Linked DNA regions of Homo sapiens. The protein of the gene in region 1 purifies or fractionates together with the protein of each later gene. This does not show direct contact. Each region holds a gene or a part of one and is shown in the gene's direction. Other genes may lie near its edges.

Region 1 (7,107 bases):
TAATCAAGTTAAAATAGAGATTGCGTTGAGCTAGTTTGTGTCAGACAGTGTGCAGAGTCCCCAAAATTTGCAAAACAGCACTATTTTATATTCCATTTTGGGTTTTTTAGTATTTTGAATTCTGAATTGCTTATTTCTTTAGCACTTGTTAGATTTTATAATACAGTATAATATTAAATCCTCAAATTGTACTTTTAAAATTTAAGCTAAAATACCCCAGGACTGGTAACTAATACTTTCACATAAAAGTCCTCCTTAAAGGATCTAAGGAACATCTAATCTTGTTTTAGCTATTCTCCACATCCCTAACCCTGGACTTTGCTCAGAAAGAAAAAAAAAATCTGGTTGCCCTTGGATAACTATGGAGGGGCCAGGAAAATGCGTGAATTTGGGCAGCTGTAATAGAACAGAAATGTATATTTTCAAAGTCTCTTTTATCCAGGTGTCATAGAGCGCCTGACGTTTTTTCATCAAAAGATCTGAGTAGTGTAAGCTGATTATCTCTCTTTTTTTTTTTTTTTTGAGACGAAGTCTCGCTCTTGTTCCCCAGGCTGGAGTGCAATGGCGTGACCATGGCTCACTGCAACCTCTGCCTCCTGGGTTCAAGCTATTCTCCTGCCTCAGCCTCCAGAGTATCCAGGATTACAGGCGCCTGCCACCACTCCTGGCTAATTTTTGCATTTTTAGTAGAGACGGGGTTTCACCATGTTGGCCAGGCTGGTCTTGAACTCCTGACCTCAGGTGATCCACCCGCCTCGGCCTCCCAAAGTGCTGGGGTTACAGGCGTGAGCCCCTGTGCCCGGCCTGGTTATCTCTTTTCAATGGAGAAACTGAGACATATAATAATAAACTAATTAGCCCAGCATGATCTGGCAAGAACCCCACTACAGGTCCCAGGTTGTGATTACTGAAACACAACTCCTTCCTATGAACAAACTCATATTCTTTGTGTGTAATGCTAAATAAAAATCTTAGTTTTAAGAATTACTTGTTATAAGTTAGAGATTAATTTTAGGAGAAGCATGCCTTTTACATTTTTGACCTTGGAATTTAAAAACTAAAATGTGGCATTAAAGGTTTTTTTTTTTTAATTAAGAAAAGAGAATTTCTGTTACATCAAGGAAGAAAGGAAACAAGTCAGAAGCTATTTAGTTTTATGTGTGCTGATATATATAGATATCCTTATTCAGATCTCTAAGATGAAACAGTCCAAGGTCAGATACTGGAAGACCAGGAGAGTGTTTTGATCTTGTGGGGAGTGATCCTGACTACATAGAGGTTCTGCAAAGTCCTAGTTCTATCACCTGTATCTTGGCTCAGTTTCCTAACAATGTAATGGATAATACCAAATACTTTCTACAAATTTATTTTTAAATGCTTTGTGGACTTGTGAATACTTGCTGACTGAATCAGTTAAACTTTAGGGACAGCCAAAAATTTGTATACTGTTCAGGTAGCATTTACTGTACTGTAGGGGCCATTTTCCTGATTAATACTTTGGTGGTTTGGGTGTAAGTAATTCTTAGTGCTTCAGGTACACTCAGGATATACATTTGTCAGCAGATAGGAATTAACCATGTTTGTTTTCAAAGAAAGATAAGTAATGTTTCTGTATATATATTTTTTCATTTTGACTTGGATATTTTTCAAAGTACAGGGGCAAACGAGCCACATTTCAGAAATAAGGATATGTTTCACAGTATGTTGTGGTGATTTATACAAACTTCATAGTGAATCTAGTTTAAGGATGAACTCCCTGACTTACCTATGCTTTTATGTTAGGGAAAAAACTGGCTAAAGTTGTTTTAATTGTTATTTATTTATTTATTTATAAGAAACAGGGTCTCCCTCTGTTGCCCAGGCTGGAATGCAGAGGTACAATCATAGCTCACTGTAGCCTCAAACTCCTGGGCTGAAGCAATCCTCCCTCCTCAGCCTCCTGAGTAGCTGAGACTACCGGCATGTGCCACCACACCTGGCTAATTAAAAAAATTTTTGTTTTGTAGAGGCAAGGTCTCACTATGTTGCCCAGGCTGGTCTCAAACTGAACTCCTGGCCACAAGCGATCCTCCTGCCTGCCTCAGCCTCCCAGAGTGCTGGGATTACAGACATGAGCCACTGTGCCTGGTCTAAATTCTTTATTTATAATTTCATATTCCATAATAATAAACATCTTGAGATTAAATATTTTGTTACTAGGTAATGATTTTTTATAGCCATTTACTCTTGATAATAGCTTGATATGATTTGTGCCATAATGGATTTTGTTTTCAGGACTTGTAATATAATTTCATGGGCAGAGAGTATGTTGTTGAACTAAGGCAGTGAGTGGCTCTCAAACTAGCATACATCAGAATCACCTGGACAGTTTAATAAAACCCAGATTGCTGAGCACCATCCCCAGAGTTTCTGATTCAGTAGGTTTGGGCAGGAGCCCAAGAGCTTGCATTTCTAATAAGTTCCCAGGTGACGCTGATGCCGCTGATCTGGGGATAACACTTTGAGACCCACTGAACTAAAGTGAATGAGAAATTTGCTGAAATTGCCTGAGCATGTGAAAGGATCATGCCTTGTGTGCCTTTTAAAAACTGCTGTTTTGACATTACGCTTTTTTTAAAAGGGCGTATTTTTCACCAGAATTACAGAGTACTTAAATTTTGAATGATTATGGTGATGAATATTAATAATAAAATATCAGGGGTTTAAATAGAATGCTGAAATTAAACCATGTAAATTGCAAAAGTACATTTTAAATTCTGAATTACAGTAGGTCTGGTTCGTGGTTAGTCAAACACCTGGATACTTACATGTGTGTTTTTTAGTATGCATTATATGGATGAATATTATAATGGCCTAGCTTCCTGCCTTTGGAGAAATGGAAAAGAAATGTGAAGTGACCTAGTTAAACCATCATTTTAACTTTACCACCTCTCCCAGATTTTCTCAGGCAGATTTCTTGAGTCCTAACTTGGTAATACTTGTGTAACTTTACTTCAGTGATCTCGGGTCAGACCTTGACTGTAAATATACTACACTAAGTAGGTGATTGATTCATCTGAGAACTCTGTGGCATCATTGCCCTCTCTGTCTAGCAGTCAAAGTAAAGTTATTGACAGATCATCTGCTCTCCTAAGTCACTGGATATGGCAGGAGAAAATGAACCCAGAAAACAAAATGAAGGATAGTGAAATGCAGACACCAGTGATGTCTGCAGCTTTCTCTATACCCAGTGTGGTGGAAGGAGAAAAAGGCAGCACTCTTCTTTCTAATTAAATCCGCATAGCACACTTATTTTCTCATTGTTTCAGCTAAGGGTATGCTGCTATCCCTGTATTTGGTAAAGAGAGATAATGATGATTTGTTTTATAAATGACAAAAGAAAGACTGCTTCCTGCTGCCTAATCTGCAGAGGCACAATGATGACATAGAACTTGCTTTCTCCTTTTCCTGAGAATAACTCCTCATGTTGGGTATATTTGGCCCATTGAAGTTATATATAATTCCTATTCTATGAGAATTTGTTTTATACCTTTGTGAATTGAAGAGAACATACATGTCTTGTGTGTTTTGTTTTTATTGTTTAGGAGAAAACTGATGTGGAAGGAACCTTATTTGTTTATACAAGGTAAGAGTGTTTCACTTTTATAAAGAAACTAATCTTCAAAATAATATTTTAGCTCCGTTGTGTCACTCTTCTTCAAGTGCATGCAGTTTTATTTCAAAAAGAAGTAAAAGAATTAAATCTCAGTTTTGAAATTATTAGTTGACACGAAGAAGGGAATACCAAATAATGTCACCTGGTATATCGTGATGAATACTAATTTCAGAATATAATTTAAACTTCAATGTAGATGAACTTAAATCATTGACTGGGCACTGTTTAAAATAGATTAAATATTCTTTGATTCAAGTGAATGGCACAAAGTTCTTGAATATAATGCATTGGCAAGGAGCTAGAAGAACACTATCAGAAATACTAGATTGTTCAGTTAATATTTGGAAAAGGGTTTCATTGATCATTTTTCTTTTTTTTGAGATGGAGTCTCGCTCTGTCACCAAGGCTGGAGTGCAGTGGCACGATCACAGCTCTTGGCTTGCTGCAACCTCTGCCTCCTGAGTTCAAGTGATTCTCCTGCCTCAGCCTTCTGAGTAGCTGGGATTACAGGCATGCGCCACCACGCCCAGCTAATTTTTAGTAGCAACGGAGGTTTCACCATGTTGGTCAGGCTGGTCTCAAACTCCTGACCTCGTGATCCACCCGCCTTGGCCTCCTAAAGTGCTGGGATTACAGGCGTGAGCCACCGCACCTGGCTGTTGATCACTTTTCTCCCACCCCTGACTCTTTAAAAAAGCATGATCCAAAATTGAAGATGTCTTTCAGTCCTCCATTGTCTAGTCAATAGAATATGTTTCAGGATAGATTTAATAAACTCATGTTTTTAGTCATTTCTTGTTATCAGATATTAATATCAAATTACGAGTGCATATAGAGACATACATTATGTATATTGGCTCAATAAATAAACTTTTCATTCACATAAACATTCACATAAAATGTCATAGCCAAAGGTCATCACCTTCAATGAGGGTACAAAGATGAAATTAAAAGACCTAATATAAACCTTTCTAGGGGTATCTGTTTCACTGGGGAGACAGGAAATACACACACACAAGTGTATTTTCTTTCCACATATATTCATGTTTATGGTAAGCCACAATACAGGATAGAGTATCCTAAGTGCCAGTGGATAGATTCTGAGCAATGAATGGGCTGCTGTGATCATGGAAGGCTTTATCGCAAGCTTGTCCAACCCACGGCCCATAGGACACGTGGCCCAAGATGGCTTTGAATGTAGCCTGACAGAAATTCGTAAACTTCTTTAAAACATTAGAAGAGTTTGTTGTTTTTTTTTTTTTTTTTTTTTTTTTTTTTTTTTTTTTTTAGCTCATCAGCTATTATTAGTGTATTTTATGTGTGGCCCAAGACAATTCTTCCCTTTCCAAGGTGTCCCAGGAAGGCCAAAAGATTGGACACCCCTGCTTTATAGAGTGATGTGTCTTGAATTGGGCCTCAGGAATATGGTGGAACTTAGCTTGCATAGAGGAGAGGGAAGGCAGTCTCAACAGGAAGAATGGCAAAAGCAGGGGCGGAGAACCTGGTGTGTTAAAGGGACAGTGAGGGAGATGTGGTGCAGAGGGCTTATACTGGTTTATAGTAGTTAGCAAGTGTAAAGAGATTTGCTAGCTTGGAATGGCAGACTCTGGATTTTGAGATTATTTTCTTAGCAGTAGGAAGTTATTGAAGGCTTATGAACAGGAGAGTAATAGAGAAAATGTATGGGGAAAGTCAGTGTATTCACTTCATGGGGACGCACTAGTTCTGGAAGAAATTGGAGTCAGGACAGTGAGAAGATTATTGCAGTGGGGTAGATATGAAATGATGAGAGTTGGGATTAGAATAATAGAAATTGAAATGGAAAGGGTATTGCAATGGTGAAATTTTAAAAATGACAATATTTTGAACATGGAAGATTGAGAATGACAGAAGCATTGGTGGAAAAGAAAGACAGGAGGTCAAGAATGTGGCTTGAGGATCAGCCCTCATTTTACTTTGAAGTAATGATTTGGAACTGGTAGCAGGACACTTGGGTGGAGGTGGCCAGCCCCTCAGAGTAAGGGCAGGGCTGGAGATGGTTTAGAGTTGTCTGAAGTAATTTGGTAGTTGAAACCATGAAATAAAAGCTGTTCCCTGAAGGAGTGAGTATAAAGAGGAACCGATGAGGGTTTATGGTTAGGTTTGAGGGCCAGCAAGGATACAGATGAGTCAGCTGGAAAGATAAAAGCAGGACTAGAACAGCACAGAGAGGCCCATTTGGGGCAAAGTGTGGGCATGATGGAGGTCTGTGTATGCTGGGCAGGAGGGAGCTCAGCTGCAGGGGAGGAAGGTCTGTTCCAGTGGAGGCAACAATGGGAGGTGGAAGGAAGGAATGGGAGGCAAGGCCAGCACACTTGGTGACAAGGAGGTCAGGTTCTTCACAGTCTCAGAAGAGCAGTGGAGTACCCAAGAACCGTTGGTATATGAGTCTACATTATGCTCCCAAACATCCAGAGCACCAGAGCATGCCCCCAGGCAAGTTTATTGGGTAGAGTATGAGCACTCTTGAGGATTCTGAAGTTTACAACAAAAGCCATAGGGTTGCACTGTACTATGTGCCATGCACACAGGGTGCGTTCTCACTCATCTCTCACAACACGCATTATGATTCTTTGGAGAAGTGACAGAAAAGATGTATTAGTAAGTATTAATGATTGATTTGGGGAATTTTTAGTAGGGTTTTTTTTTAACTATGGAAGAGGAACAAATCATACAAATATTTTCTTTTGTACATCCAGACCAAATATAAGTTTGTATTTTCAAGGATTTCTTACTATACTCTAAGTCTCTAATGGAACTCTCAATTAAACAAAACATTAAATTGAGAAAAAAATCCTTTGCTGTTTTTTAGTCTTTTCTCCAAATCTAACTCCTCAAGAATGGGATGCCTCCCTTATCCCCTGCAAAACAAAAACCTCCCAGATCCTAGAATGTTGAAGGCTTTCTTCAGTAGCGAATTACAAAAAGCATGTAAAACTCATGGTGGGTGGGGGGTGGGAGGCTTGTTACAGGGAATGGAGCTGGCAGTGATTTATTTTGACTTCTCTTACAGAAGTTGCTTTAGAGCAGTTGGCACATTTATCCCCTGGGCCTATTTTCTAAATTATGAGATGCTATAGTAGCTGTACTATTAAAGAGGTGAGATCCTGTTGTGATAATGAAATACATGCAGAATCAAATTCTCATTCTTGTATGAAAACACTTAATCCCATTTAAAAAATCATTTATTTCCTCCCATGCCTTCCTTTCTGTAATAGAGAGTTCATAGAGACACCCACTGGTGATTTCTGAACTTGACAGTTCCAGAAGACCCCTAACAGAGCTCTTTGGGAGTACATTTTCATTCTTCCTCTGAATTTAAGTTGAAGTGATGATCATGATTATTTCTGGTATTGATTGTATGCTTACCACCACTTTACCCCTTTGTAAAATAAGCTAGGCAAGGATTGCCT
Region 2 (7,263 bases), about 110 Mb from region 1:
CACCTCAGTCTCCCAAAGTGCTGGGATTACAGGCATGAGCCACCGTGCCCAGCCTACTCTGATATTTTCATATAAAGCTTAAGCCTTCTGAAGTCCAGAGAAAAGGTAGTTTCCATAAATAAATAAATAAAATAAAAATAACTAAATAAACTTACCACATCACCCAACAATTTCGTTTGTAGGAACCAACCCAAGATAAATGAAAACATATATCCACATGAAGATATATGTTCACAAATGTTCATAGCAGCATTATTATTTTTCTTTCTTCTTCTTTGTGTGTGTGTGTGTGTGTTTTAGCAACTCTATTAACTGAACGAGACAGGGTCTTGGTCTGTTGCCCAGGCTAGAGTGCAGTGGCGCATTCGTAGCTCACAGCAACCTCGATCTCCTGGGCTCAAGCGGTCCTTCTGCTTCAGCCTCCCTAGTAGCTGGGACTATAGGTGCGTGTCACCATGACCAGCTAATTTTTTTTTTTTTTTTTTTTTGGAGACAGAGTATTGCTGTGTCACCCAGGCTTCAGTGCAATGGTGCAATCTCGGCTCACTGTAACCTCCGCCTCCTGGGTTCAAGCAATTCTCCTGCCTCAGCCTCCCAAGTAGCTGAGATTACAGGTGCCCGCCACCACGCCTGGCTAATTTTTTGTATTTTTAGTAGAGACGGGATTTCACCATGTAGGCCAGGCTGGTCTCGAACTCCTGATCTCAGGTGATCCACCCACCTCGGCCTCCCAAAGTGCTGGGATTATAGGCATGAGCCACCACGCCCAGCCAACCAGCTAATTTTTTATTTTTAAAGTTTTTCATAGAGACAGGGTCTCTCTATGTTGCCCAGGCTGGTTTCAAACTCCGGGGTATTCAAGTGATCCTCCCATCTCGGTATCCTAAAGTGTTGGGATTACAGGAGTGAGCCACCAATCTCAGCCCCAGCAGCATTTTCATAATACTCAAAAAGTTGACACAATCTAAACATCCACAATTGGAAAGTAGACACAAAATGTGGTATGTCCATACATGGAATATGACATAGCAATAATAAGGAATGAAATACTGCTACATGCCACAACCTTAGATAAACCTCAAAAACATTATGACAAATGAAAGAAGGCAGACACAAAAGGCTGCATGCTGTAAGATTCTACTTATGTGAAAAATCTGGACAAATCCATAGAGAGAAAATGTAGATGAGTGGTTGCCTGGGGCTAAGGATGGGAACCAAACTGCCCACCATCGTGAAGGATCTTTTTGGGGTAATGGAAATGTTCTGAAATTAGTGGCAATGGTTGTGCAAATTTACTGTGTAAATTTACTGAGAATCATTAAATTGTACACAAAATAGGTGAATTTCATAGTATGTAAATTATATCTTGATAAAACTATTAAGTTTTTATTCAATGGTAGTGAGTTAAAACAAACTTTCTCAGCTATGTCAGCTTCAGGCCTTCTTTTTTTTTAATTTTGAAAAATTTTTTATGGAGAGGAGGGTCTCACTATGTTGCCCAGGCTGGTCTCCTACTCCTTGGTTCAAAGGATCTGCCTGCCTTGGCCTTCCAAAGTGCTGGGATTATAGGTGTAGGCCACTGTATCCAGCCTAGGCCTTCTTATTCAACTTCCATCGACCTGAAACTTACTATTTTTTTTTTGAGACGGAGTCTCGCTCTGTCGCCCAGGCTGGAGTGCAGTGGTGTGATCTCCGCTCACTGCAAGCACCGCCTCCCAGGTTCACACCATTCTCCTGCCTCAGCCTCCCAAGTAGCTGGGACTACAGGTGCGCATCACCACACCCAGCTAATTTTTGTATTTTTAGTAGAGATGGGCTCTACTAAAAATTGGCCAGGCTGGTCTCGAACTCCTGACCTCAGGTGATCCACCGGCCACTGCCTCCCAAAGTGCTGGGATTACAGGCGTGAGCCACCACACTGGCCAAAACTTGTTCTTAAGATTGTATTCTGGGACCTTGATTCCAATCAGAGAAAAGTGATTGTATTTTTTTATTTTTATTTTTTTTAGATAAAGTTTCGCTCTTGTTGCCCAGGCTGGAGTGCAGTGGTGCCCTCTTTGGTCACTGTAACCTCCGCCTCCTGGGTTCAAGCGATTCTCCTGCCTCAGCATCCTGCGTAGCTGAGATCACAGATGCCCACCACCACGCCCAGCTAATTTTTTCGTATTTTTAGTAGCGATGGGGTTTCACCATGTTGGCCACGCTGGTCTTGAACTCCTGACCTCAGGTGATCCATCCGCCTCGGCCTCCCAGAGTGCTGGGATTACAGGTGTGAGCCACCGCGCCAGGCCAAGTGTTTGTATTTCTATTAAAGAAAGAATATAACGGGACACCATTGACGACCTGCTCCATTGCAGGCCTCCTTGCTGTTCCTCAGACTCCCCCCTCAGAGCCTTTGCCCTCGCTGTGCCCTCCACCTGGAGCGTTTCTCCCCAGGATCCTCATGCCCATGCTCATTTGGGTCCCTGCCCCATGTCACCCTCTCCAGGAGCTTCCCCTCACAGCAGCCCTGGCCTGTACCACAGCCGGGTACAGGTATTTTTTTGTTTCAACTGGTTTTTTAGTTCCAGTTTCCTTTAGGTTACTTTATTTATTTATTTATTTATTTATTTTTTGAGACGGAGTCTCGCTCTGTCGCCCAGGCTGGAGTGCATGATCTCGGCTGACTGCAACCTCCACCTCCCGGATTCAAGCAATTCTCCTGTATCAGCCTCCCGAGTAGCTGGGATTACAGGCGCCCACCACCACACCCGGCTAATTTTTATATTTTTGGTAGAGACGGGGTTTCACCATGTTGGCTAGGCTAGGTTAATTTTTAAAGGGTTTTGCAATGGTCCCTTGATCTACTTTTTACCTTAGATGGGAAATAAAACTGATTTCCTACATTGGCAGAATACAATGATCATTTTTGCCTGGACTATCTAGGAGGTTAATTTCAGTTGGACTACTGAAAACTGCTGGTTCAATCATTCTCCACGTTTATCTAAGTCTTTACCTTTATCTGGACAGTTCTAGGACATTGAGGGGAATTTTGGTGTTTCTTCCCCTATTATTTCCTGAAGTCATTTCACTTTAAAAAACAATAGATTCACTGCTCAAAAAAAAAAAAAAAAGTTACCTACTTTCTACTTGCTTCCAGTTTAACTGCAACACATTTTAAAAAGAGTCTACTGTGCTGGCTGGGTAAGTTAAATTAAAACTTCTAAAGGGTCCAAGGTCTAAAGTTCGCACATTGTTTTGAGGTCGGCTCTGTCTCTACCGAGGGAGATCCCATTATCCGTAGTTCTACCAGTCCCAATCCCATATATTTCCTTTAGAATCTCATGAATGAGGAAAAAGAAGTTCAAGTGAGGGAACATAGGTTCAAATGAAGGTCAGATACCTAAAAGAGTTTTCTGGTGACTGTGCGCGGCTGGGGTGGAAAAAGTGGGGAAAAGGTACCCAGATGTGGGTGGCCCCGGAGGGTTGCTCCACTCCAGCCCCGGCAGGGCAGGACAGCGCGGCCTGCCTGGTAGATGCCCCGAGCCACTGGAGCGCCTACTGTGTGGCGGGCGGGGGACGGCAGGAAAACGGCAGGATGCTGTGTCCCCTGAATCTGGCAGGGTTCTAGGTGCTTTACACGTAGCAAGACACATTCTCCGCCCCAAGGCACTCGCAGTCAGTCCATTTTCTGGGTTGCATCAGGTGGGGGCAAACTAGGTCCCCGCAGAAGTGAAGATGCTGAAGGAATACAGTAGGAGAAGAAATGCTTCTCTCCTGTCCTCCACACCAGGCAGGCCCCAGAGGCTGAGACCGACACGCCCTCCCCGAAGGGCAGACCCGCCTTGAGGAAGGCGGATCCGGGTAGGGACCGCCGCCTGGCCCTCACCCGACCCCCGAGAAAGCAACCCAGCGCGCCGCCCGCTCCTCACGTGTCCCTCCCGGCCCCGGGGCCACCTCACGTTCTGCTTCCGTCTGACCCCTCCGACTTCCGGTAAAGAGTCCCTATCCGCACCTCCGCTCCCACCCGGCGCCTCGGCGCGCCCGCCCTCCGATGCGCTCAGCGGCCGCAGCTCCTCGGAGTCCCGCGGTGGCCACCGAGTCTCGCCGCTTCGCCGCAGCCAGGTGGCCCGGGTGGCGCTCGCTCCAGCGGCCGGCGCGGCGGAGCGGGCGGGGCGGCGGTGGCGCGGCCCCGGGACCGTATCCCTCCGCCGCCCCTCCCCCGCCCGGCCCCGGCCCCCCTCCCTCCCGGCAGAGCTCGCCTCCCTCCGCCTCAGACTGTTTTGGTAGCAACGGCAACGGCGGCGGCGCGTTTCGGCCCGGCTCCCGGCGGCTCCTTGGTCTCGGCGGGCCTCCCCGCCCCTTCGTCGTCCTCCTTCTCCCCCTCGCCAGCCCGGGCGCCCCTCCGGCCGCGCCAACCCGCGCCTCCCCGCTCGGCGCCCGCGCGTCCCCGCCGCGTTCCGGCGTCTCCTTGGCGCGCCCGGCTCCCGGCTGTCCCCGCCCGGCGTGCGAGCCGGTGTATGGGCCCCTCACCATGTCGCTGAAGCCCCAGCAGCAGCAGCAGCAGCAGCAGCAGCAGCAGCAGCAGCAACAGCAGCAGCAGCAGCAGCAGCAGCAGCCGCCGCCCGCGGCTGCCAATGTCCGCAAGCCCGGCGGCAGCGGCCTTCTAGCGTCGCCCGCCGCCGCGCCTTCGCCGTCCTCGTCCTCGGTCTCCTCGTCCTCGGCCACGGCTCCCTCCTCGGTGGTCGCGGCGACCTCCGGCGGCGGGAGGCCCGGCCTGGGCAGGTGGGTGTCGGCACCCCAGCCCCCTCCGCTCCGGGCCCGGCGTCCCCTCCCCCGCGGCCCGCGCCGCCGTCCCCGCCCCGTGACCCGCCGGGCTACCCGGGGTGGGCTGGGGGCCGGCAGCGCGGGGGAGACTCGCTCGGGCCTGAGCCCCGAGGCTCGGCCGGTGGGCGCAGCCGGGGTCCTCTGGGATTGTCAGGCCTGTCCAGCCTCCCGCAGCATCCCCGCCCCCTCCCCCGGCGGTCAAGATGGAGGGAGCGGGCGGCCTCCCCTCCCCACGCGTGTTGGGAGGGGTTCTCGGGTAGCGGCGATGGTCAGCCCCGGCTCCCCCTTCCGCACGATCCTCCGCCCGCAGCGTGGGGATGCTCGGGCAGCTCCTCCACTCCCGGTTTAGGTGTGAACGTTGGAGGGGTCTGGAGGCTGTGGTGGCGTTTTCCGGAACATGTCCCCCTCCATGGGGGACATCTCTGGAGGGGAGAAGTTAGGGCCGCGTCCCCCGTGCCGGTTAAAGGGGTAGGCACCGGGCTCCTCCGGAATCATCAGGGTCTGTCGGGGCTCTCTCCCCGCCCCCTCCGAGTCCTGGGAAAGATCGGAGGACGGGGTGGAGACAAGTGGGCCTTGGCCCCCGCACCCCTCTGCGTTCGTGTCCGAGGCGGCGGCGGGGGCTCCCGAACTCCCCTGAAATCGTGGGGCTCCATGTGGCCTCCGGCAGCGTTCCACCCTCCCCCACCTGGGGAAGGGAAGGGGTGGGGAGTGCCCGGCCCCGTCCCGGCCTTCCTCCTTCCCCCGCCAGACCTCTCCGGCGCGCGGGTGGTGGCCGATCCGCATTGCTGTTCGAGGCCGCAGTGGAGAAGGCGCCTGTGGAACATCGGTGGGTGAGGGCTGGACCCAGGCTGGACCCTGGAGATCCGGGGTGGCGGTGCTGGTGGCAGGGGGCGGGCACCCTGCGCACTTATCCCAACCCCCGCCCCAATTTCGGAAATGCTAGGAGAGAGAGATTGCAGCAGGGGACGTGGTCGGGTTCCTGAAGGCAGAAAGGCGGGTGTTTACTAGCGTCTTTTTCCCTCCTAAGCCGGGGTTGTAGTAGGGGCTGGGGGCTCAGTGTTGTCCCGGCTAACTGGGTTTGACTCGAGGGTGTGTTTGTGCAGGAGGGCCTGTTGGGGGTGGCGGGCGGTTGTCAGTTCGTATTTCACGAACTAAGAAAATGCTTAGTGTTCAAAGGGAGAAGGAAACGTCAATAGACTCCATTCCATTGTGGCCGGTGTCCTTAACTTCGGGAGTGCCGCCAGAGCTTACCAAGGGCACGCAAGTCCATTTCCCTTGTGCCTCAAGTCCATCCGTGTTGTAGGCACTACTGTGCCTTCTTTAGGCCTAGGCCGCCGGCTTGACGGCGGGTGACCGGCGTCCTCCTTAAATAGGCATCTTGGGCTTTGGAAGGTGGAATAAGAGGATTTTTCATTCACCCGAGTTTTCTTTTTGAAAACACATTTTCAGCAACCCATTTCCAAAGAATTTTTATTTACAGCAGAAATTCCCCATCAAGAGGAATCAGCTGGTTTTTAAGGAATTCTGCTGCCTTCAAAGGGGGCGGAAACAGTCGGTTATTTGACTTTACACGCCCCGCCCCCCCTTCCCCTTCTCTGAGTCTGAAGCATCCCAAACACTACTTAGCCAAACTAGTTCAGATGAAGTGATCGTTTCCCCAAGTAGGGTAACTTCAGTTTCCCTTTTTCGTTGGCATCTAGCGAAAAATGAAAAAATTTAAAATACAACTTTTATAGAAAAGGATGTATTCTGTTTTTACTTTCTTAGGTATTAGGAAGAGATTTGGCAGATAATTCAACATGTTCAAATATATAAACATTAAAACTAAGGTTATTAAGTTGCATTGACTACTAGGCTTAAAAATTAGATTATAAGAGAATTTGCTCCTGAGTAGTTTGAGTGATCAAAGATATTTGGAATGTTTTAGTACCACAAGGTCTTTTTTCTGTTCCTTGAGGCTTTACAACAATTTAAGGTTAATTTAGATTTTTCCTTGCTTTAAGTTCTTTTACTTGAGACCTAAATGGCAGCCCTTATTCTTTCTGATGAATAGGTGAAATTTTGTTTACTGTGTTGGATTTGTGTAATGTGAAGTTTTATTCTTGAACAGATCGTTAATGTACTTGTAGAATTACTTTGAATTTGAATCACTTTCCTGCATTCCTTGTAAATAAGTTTCAGCTTCTAGAATCTCCTCACTTAGGTTTGTGCGTATCAACAGTGAAAATAAGTCTCTGAGAGCAAGGGTGAAAAAAAATGCAGCATTCGGTTTGACAAGTTTCGAGATAGCAAAATATGCTTGAAAGTCTGGAAATTCACATCTGCTTTAAGAAACATTTCATAATTTGACTTTGTGTGTGTGTGTGTGAATAGTTTTTCATGACTTTCAGAAGTGATTTATTTTGTTCTTTGTTATATATATTTTTGAAGGTGGCTGTTTTAGGAAAGATAATGTAA
Region 3 (7,252 bases), on another chromosome or scaffold:
TTCCTACTTTTCAATTTGAGTTTACTCAGGGGTTGGAACATTTATTCCAACAAAATGTGCCTGATGTAACCTCTCAGTGATTAAGCACGCCTGCTTAGTATGCATCAACTTCAGCGCAGTATGTGCACCTCTCTGAGGACATCTCTACTAAGCCCTCAGTGACTGATGCTGCTTCACTTTCTTCAGGTGTATAAATTGAAAAGGCAATTTTTACCTGCTATGAAGTCCCAAGAAAACGGGACTTGGCTCCTTGGGCATATTAGCCTTTAGTCTTGTTAGTGATGATCAGATGTTGCTTGAGCATATTTGGAAAATAACTTTGTATGTTGAAATTTTGGGAAATCAAAGTATTATACTGCAAATCACTTGAAAGAGGGCAAATACCAAATGGTAAAGCTTAGCCAGATGTGATATAATCATTTCACTGAAGATATGAGATAGGTAAAATTTTTTTCTTATAGGTAATGAACACATTTGATTGTAATTTGAGTTAAAGTATTATAGTCCCTTTTAAAAAAAAAGCCCAGAATGTTAAAAGTGTGAACTCCATTTCAGCAAGTTGAAAACATTTGAGTGTTTAAGATATTATCACAGGTCTGCGTATTCCAGGTTCAACTTACTAGGAATTCTGGATTCTAAGTATTTTAAATTGAAGTTAAAGTGAAATCAAGTGTAAATTAATCTGTGATTTTTTTTTCGTTCTGGTTATTTTTAGGTAAATAAATGAGGTCAGGATGTGAGACTGGCGAATAATATATGCTGAGATAACCCATTACTGTGATTGAATTCCAGGAGGAAATTGAAGAGGGGTGATGACGCAAAGGTGAATACAGACAACATGAAAACGGCTAATACATGTTGGGAAACTTTTTTTTTCATTTCTTTTTCTTTTTCTTTTTTTTTTTTTTTTTGAGACGGAGTTTTGCTCTTGTTGCCCAGGCTGGAGTGCAATGGCACGATCTTGGCTCACTGCAACCTCCGCCTCCCCAGGTTCAAGGGATTCTCCTGCCTCAGCCTCCCAAGTAGCTGGGATTACAGGCACCTGCCACCATGCCCAGCTATTTTTTTTCTTTTTTTTTTTTTTAGTACAGACGGGGTTTCACCATGTTGGCTAGGCTGGTCTGGAACTCCTGACCTCAGTCGACCCACCTGCCTCGGCCTCCCAAAGTGCTGGGATTACAGGCGTGAGCCACCGTGCCCAGCCCAAGTGAAAAACTCTTTACCACAATTAATAGGTGAGTTCATTAGGGATGATAGCACACCCTTCAGAAACCGTATTTACTACAGATCTCCCACAACTATCACACTCAATACTAACTAAAAGGCCAGAGGATTGGATTCATATAACTTTTTTAAAAGTACACATATATTTTATAAATATAAGGATATTATTTGCACTAGCAATTTATCTGTATTCCTAAAGTGTCATACAAATGATTCTTGCAAATCTGTTTTAACTAGGGAGAAAACAATGTATTGAGATAGTTGGACTAGACCTATCTACCACTAACACTAAACTTGGAAGAAAAGATCCAAGAGTTCATAGCTTAATTCTAAACCATCTATGCTTCTCACTTGAAAACAGAGAAGGGCTGATGTAAATGAGTTGTGAGGGTATCTGACTACCTTAAAAGCAGAATATTTGAAGGTTTTAGCCCTGGAAGGATTCCTAGGTGAGAAGGCAGCACCTATTTCATATTCTACTTTTGGTTGCCTCCTGGCTTTTGTTTTGTGACCTCAACCAGACTCCTTGTGTAGGTTACAATTTATTTGTGGATGTGAACCCGGGCTCCTTTTGTAGGTTATAGTTTATTTGTGGGTGTGAACCCCCTTCCTTTGCCTGGTTCAATTTCTTCAGTGGTTTAGGAAAGACACCCCTCCAAGCAGTGGCCTGTTTTAAATCCGTAGGCCTCTCTTCCTACCACTCACTTCTTGGCCCAACCCCCCTTCACATTCCTCTGCTTGGGAAGATATTGGGGCAAAAAAGGCCTCATACATTTTTTATTAAGAAACCATTTTCTCTCTAGGATGGGCACAAGGTGCAGGGCTATTTCCTTACATTAGAAGGTATTTTAAAACCTGGGCTGGAGACGCCATGCTGTAAATTTAAAATAAAAAAAAAATGTAAGCCGAACCTTCTTTTTAACCTTAAGAATAGTCTTCACTATTCTCCACCACCTTCCCACCGGCTGTGTAGAAATAACGACCACCAAATGAGAATAGGCTATTTACTCAGAGCTGGCAAGAGTCAGCCGCGACCCATCACTTGATTTAACAGACTCATAGGCAGGCAGGGGAGTGGAAAAGCTTTACATATACTGAAAAAAGGGAGAAACTTCAGGTTGGCTCTGATTGGAGGATGTTGGCATCGGGAAGTTGGAGGAGGGCTATACTAGAAGCAGGGCTTCTTACGCGATTGGTGTGAGGAGCACATTTGGCTTTCTCTGATTGGCCCAGAGCTGGAAGCAGGGGCAAGAAATAGGGAAGCTGCCGGTTAAAGATTAAGTCCTGACCCTTCTGGCCGATTACTGAAGAGGTTATGGGTAGGAGGTCATGGTTAGGTTTGGCCATTCTTTGTATATTCAGTCTCTCAATTGGGTGAGGATTAGATTTTGTTTCTCTTGACCTAGCTAGCTTTTAGCTCCAAAGTTTTGTTTAACTTGGAAGAAGACAGCAGTTCTATTATTTCTGTCAAGGATAAACACAGACATTGGGATCTGAAAAGTATTATGGGAACATACATAAATATCTTCATAGTGAGGGTCAGGCCGGAGAGTCACCCTTTGCCTTAAGCTTCTCCATTTCCTTACTGAATTCCTATTTCTATTATAACTGACGCTTCACTAGCTTCCCTCCCTTTAGTGGAGGGCCCGGCCTCCTCCGCCCCTACTTTCTTCAGTCTTGCCCTTCGAGGGCAGGAGAAGACGGTTGCGCCCTACTAACTCTTCACCTTACAGTCCAGCTTCTCCCCCCACCACCCCGGTGCGCTCTCTCGGTTTGCTACCCTCTCCACCAGGCCTCCCCACTCCACCTGCGCAACGCCCCCAGCTCCGTGCTCTCCGGAGTAATCCCCCCTCAGTCGCACTCTCACAGCCCGGCCCCTGCCCCCGCCTCACCCCCAGTTGTGCCTTCACCTCCCGGTTCCTCCTAGACAGGTCCCCCAAGATACGCCCTCACAGTCCGGTCCCCCGCCGTCCTCTCCCGGCGCACGCTCAAGTCCGGTGCCTTCCCCCCGCAGACCCCCGAGGCGCACCCTCAAGCTCGGTGCCTCTGCGCCCCCCGCAGGGGCGCCCTCAAGCCTGGTACCCTTCACATGAGAGCCCCCCGGGCGCACCCTCAAGCTCGGTGTACCCCCCCATACCACCCGCAGGCGCGCCCTCATGCCCGAAGACTTCCCCCGCCCAGGTGCACCCTCAAGCCCGGTGCCTTCCCCCACAACCAGCGCCCCCAGGCGCACCCTCAAGCCCGGAGCCTACCCGCCGCCAGGCGCGCCCTACAGGCTCGCCCCGTCCCACCGCGCAGCGCCCCCCGCGCACTCTCTGGAGTCCTCCCTCCTGCCTGGTGCGGCCTCCGGGCCCGGTCGGCCCCCCTTCCTGCCCCCACACTCAGACGCGCGCCCGGCGTCTCCGGGTCGCTAGTTCCGCGCCTTCCTGCATGGAGGCGCGCCCCGAGAGGCTCGGACGCGGCCCCTTAGGCCCGGCATCAGCCTCCCCGGCCAGCTGGAGAAGTCAGGTCAGCTTCCTGTCCCCGAGCAGCTGCCCGGGGGCCAGTTTTCAAAACATATCCTTAGTCATGTAATAAAGAGATGTTCCTCTGGTCTCAACTCCCGATTTTTACTTTGGAGGGGCGAAGGCAGGCCTACCCTTGCCAGCCACCATTTCTCAATCACGTCGCGGCTGTGGAAAAGCAGCCGTCCTGTCCCTTCAGAAAGGAACTCGTATTTCCCCCTCGAACTTTTCTCGTCGGTGTGAGAGAAGGGCCCTCCATTTTCTCCTCAGGAAGCTTTCGCGGCCCGACTTCCTCTCACCACCAGGCCAGGAAGGCAGTGACGCCGCGGCGAATATAGCCGCGGCGGCCGAGGTTTCGCCATCTTGAGTGGAGGAGGAGCCGCGGTCGCCGCCATGCGGAGAGGCAGGGAAAGAGGGAGGAGGCGGCGGGCGGGCGAACGGGCGAGCGAGGGAGGGGGCAGAGGAGCCGAGTTAGCTCAGCCAGGCGGCGACTTCGGCGGCGCCACGAGAGCGGGCAGCGGAGGAGGTAGGGCTGGACAGCCGGGGGAGCCGGCGGCTCGGGCGGCTGGCCTGCGCGCCCCTCGGAGCGGGGCGGGGGCGGGGGCGAGAGGAGGCCGTAGCGAGAGGGCTGGGTGGGGGCGGGCGGAGGTTTCCGAGGAGGAAGGAGCGTCCGCCATTTTGGGAGCTTCGAGTCAACAATAAAGGACCGAGGGTGCCGAGCGGGAGTGGCCTCGTTGGTAGGACACGGGCCCGAGTCGCGAGGCTTGGGGTGAGGTGGTGGGGTCGAGGTCAGCGGTGCTTTGGGGGCTGTGGGGAGCCCCCCGGGCCGGCTCTGGGGGACTCTCGGGCGGAGGCCTAAGGCCTGGCCGGGCCTGGGGAGGAAGGCGGTCGGCAGCTGTGTGGGGTGGGAGCGCCTGAGAGGAGGCGAATATAGGAATGTGGTGCGCAGCAGGGTCGGCAGGAGGAACAGGCTAAGTACTCGGAGTAGCTTTATCGAAGATGAGGGAATATGAGGCCGAAGGGGGCGGCAAGGACTTAGGGGGATGATGGTGGAGGTTATAGGGTACGAGGCGGCCCTATAGGGGGCGGCAGGGACATGCTGTATTGGAGGGCTCGGTTTAGAAGCAAACCGGCCGCTGCTTGATTGCAGTAGGCCTTGCGGGTCAATAACAAGAGGGTATTTATGGAGCCCCCGACTCTTGGAGGAAAGGAGGGGGATTTCTGGTTTAGGGGGTCCATTTGGGGCCTCCTTGGGGGAGTCCCTATTGTTTGCTACTAATGGAGCGGTTGCTGGCTCATATTGCGCAGATAAGATTGCAGAGCCCCAACCTTTTGTGTTTATGGTCAGAAGTGTGTGTGTTTGGGGCGTGGGGCGGGGTGCGGGGGGACAAGAAATTTCCTTTCAGTTACGGGGTTCCAGTCATTAGTCAATGACTCTTTCCCGTATCTCTCTCCTTTCTCTTCCTCAGCCCCCATTTCCCTTCAGAATAAAACCCAGTCACTCCAACTTGCAGGCAAAGCTAGAAAAACTGCGCTGCATTTGCAAACAAAAGCTCTTGTTGGCGATGACGATACTGTTTTGGGTGTGAAACTGTCAATTGCTAACTACGATCTGTGAAGTGCTGTAATTAACTCCGCTAGGGGCTCCTCCCAACTAGTCTACGTTTCTTGTTGTTTGTTTTTTGTTTTTTTGTTTTTTGTTTTTGAAAATGTAGAAAACTTGCAAATCTAAATTGGGAAGGGGTAGGAGGAATATTTCCTTCTCTGAGAAAAAGCTGCAGTGCAGGTTTCAGTTTAAGAAGGGAGCAGTTATCACATAGTCTCATTTTGGATTTAAGGATATAGGAGGTCTTACTGTGCATGATGGACAGTAATGATGATATCGTTCGGTCTTTAGAGGTTGCCCTTTTCATCCTCTTAGTGCTCTGCAAACAGCTAAGTCTCTGTGAACTGCGTGATATCGCTGATCATAATATAAAACCGTCAATACAGGAAAGTAGCTGTTAACCATATCTGCTTAAGAGGTCAGAGTCTGAAGTAAACAGCTTTGTGTATGTGATAATCAGGATTTGCTTGTGAGCAACTTGTTCATTTTTTTTTTAAGGAAGGCATAATCAAGGAGCATTTTCTTCATAAATGTTGAGATCTGTTGACTTTAAAATTTTGAGTTTCACATGCCTTGGTGTATGGCAGAAAGAATCAGCACTCGTAAGCTAGTGTATTTTATATAAGAAATGTAACGGGGTTGCTGGGAGCGGTGGCTCACACCTGTAATCCCAGCACTTTGGGAGGCCAAGACAGGCGGATCAGCTGAGGTCAGGAGTTCGATACTAGCCTGGCCAACATGGCAAAACCCCGTCTCTACTAAAAATAGAAAAAATTTAGCTGCGCGTGGTGGCAGGCGCCTGTAATCCCAGCTACTCGGGAGGCTGAGACAGGGGAATCGCTTGAACCCAGGAGGCGGCGGTTGCAGTGAGCCAAGATTGTGCCACTGCACTCCAACCTGGGCGGCAGAGCGAGACTCCGCCTCAAAAAAAAAAAAAAAAAAAAAGTGTAACGGGGTTAAATCAAAAGCCAACAGAGTAGGGCTTTGTTTTCGTGTCTTTGTATGTTTTTATTAACTCCAATTAAAAGTAAGATTTCAGCCGGGCACGGTGGCTCTCGCCTGTAATCCTAGCACTTTAGGAGGCTAAGGCGGGCAGATCATTTGAGGTTAGGAGTCCAAGACCAGCCTGGCCAACTTGATAACACCCCGTGTCTACTGAAAAATACAGAAATTAGCCAGACCTGTAATCCCACCAAGCTACTTGGGAGGCTAAGGCATGAGGATCGCTTGAACCTGCGTGGTGGAGGTTGCAGTGAGCTGAGATCGGGCTACTGCACTCCACTCTGGGCAACAGAGTGAGACTCTGTCTCAAAAATAATAGGCCGGGCGTGGTGGCTTACGTCTGTAATCCCAGCACTTTGGGAGGCCGAGGCGGGCGGATCACCTGAGCTCAGTTGTTCAAGACCAGCCTGGCCAACATGTCGAAACCCCGTCTTTACTAAAAATACAAAAATTAGCTGGGCATGGTGGCGCATGCCCGTAATCCCAGCTACTCAGGAGGCTGAGGCAGGAGAATGGCGTGAACCCAGGAGGCGGAGCTTGCAGTGAGCTGAGAGCGCGCCATTGCACTCCAGCCTGGGTGACAGTGCAAGATTCTGTCTCAAAAAATACAATAAAAAATAAAAGTAAGTAAGATTTCCATTTACGGGATAATTTTAAACTGAGGTTGACTAGTTTTGTGGGTTTTGTTTGTTTGTTTGCTTTGTTTGTTTTTAAGTCAGAGTATTGCTCTTGTTGCCCAGGCTGGAGTACAATGGCATGATCTGGACTCACTGCAGCCTCCACCTCCTGGGTTCAAGTGATTCTGCTGCCTCAGCCTCCTAAGTAGCTGAGATTACAGGGCCACCACGCCCAGTTAATTTTTGTATTTTAGTGGAACGGAGTTTCACCGTGTTGGTCAGGTGGTCTTGAACTCCTG

The links.
Region 2: the proteins of DCP1B (region 1) and ATXN2 purify together in Homo sapiens (affinity purification with mass spectrometry; 2 studies listed by BioGRID and IntAct, with this or other methods). This does not show direct contact.
Region 3: the proteins of DCP1B (region 1) and DDX6 purify together in Homo sapiens (affinity purification with mass spectrometry; 8 studies listed by BioGRID and IntAct, with this or other methods). This does not show direct contact.

The regions. Positions count from the first base shown.
Region 1 is NC_000012.12:1,994,453-2,001,559, reverse strand, and holds part of DCP1B (mRNA-decapping enzyme 1B), read left to right. Parts: intron 1-3,584; coding exon 3,585-3,625; intron 3,626-7,107. UniProt on the Homo sapiens protein: May play a role in the degradation of mRNAs, both in normal mRNA turnover and in nonsense-mediated mRNA decay. May remove the 7-methyl guanine cap structure from mRNA molecules, yielding a 5'-phosphorylated mRNA fragment and 7m-GDP.
Region 2 is NC_000012.12:111,596,285-111,603,547, reverse strand, and holds the start of ATXN2 (ataxin-2), read left to right. Parts: upstream 1-4,232; 5' UTR 4,233-4,513; coding exon 4,514-4,764; intron 4,765-7,263. UniProt on the Homo sapiens protein: Involved in EGFR trafficking, acting as negative regulator of endocytic EGFR internalization at the plasma membrane.
Region 3 is NC_000011.10:118,788,100-118,795,351, reverse strand, and holds the start of DDX6 (probable ATP-dependent RNA helicase DDX6), read left to right. Parts: upstream 1-4,187; 5' UTR 4,188-4,254; intron 4,255-4,409; exon of another isoform or gene 4,410-4,497; intron 4,498-7,252.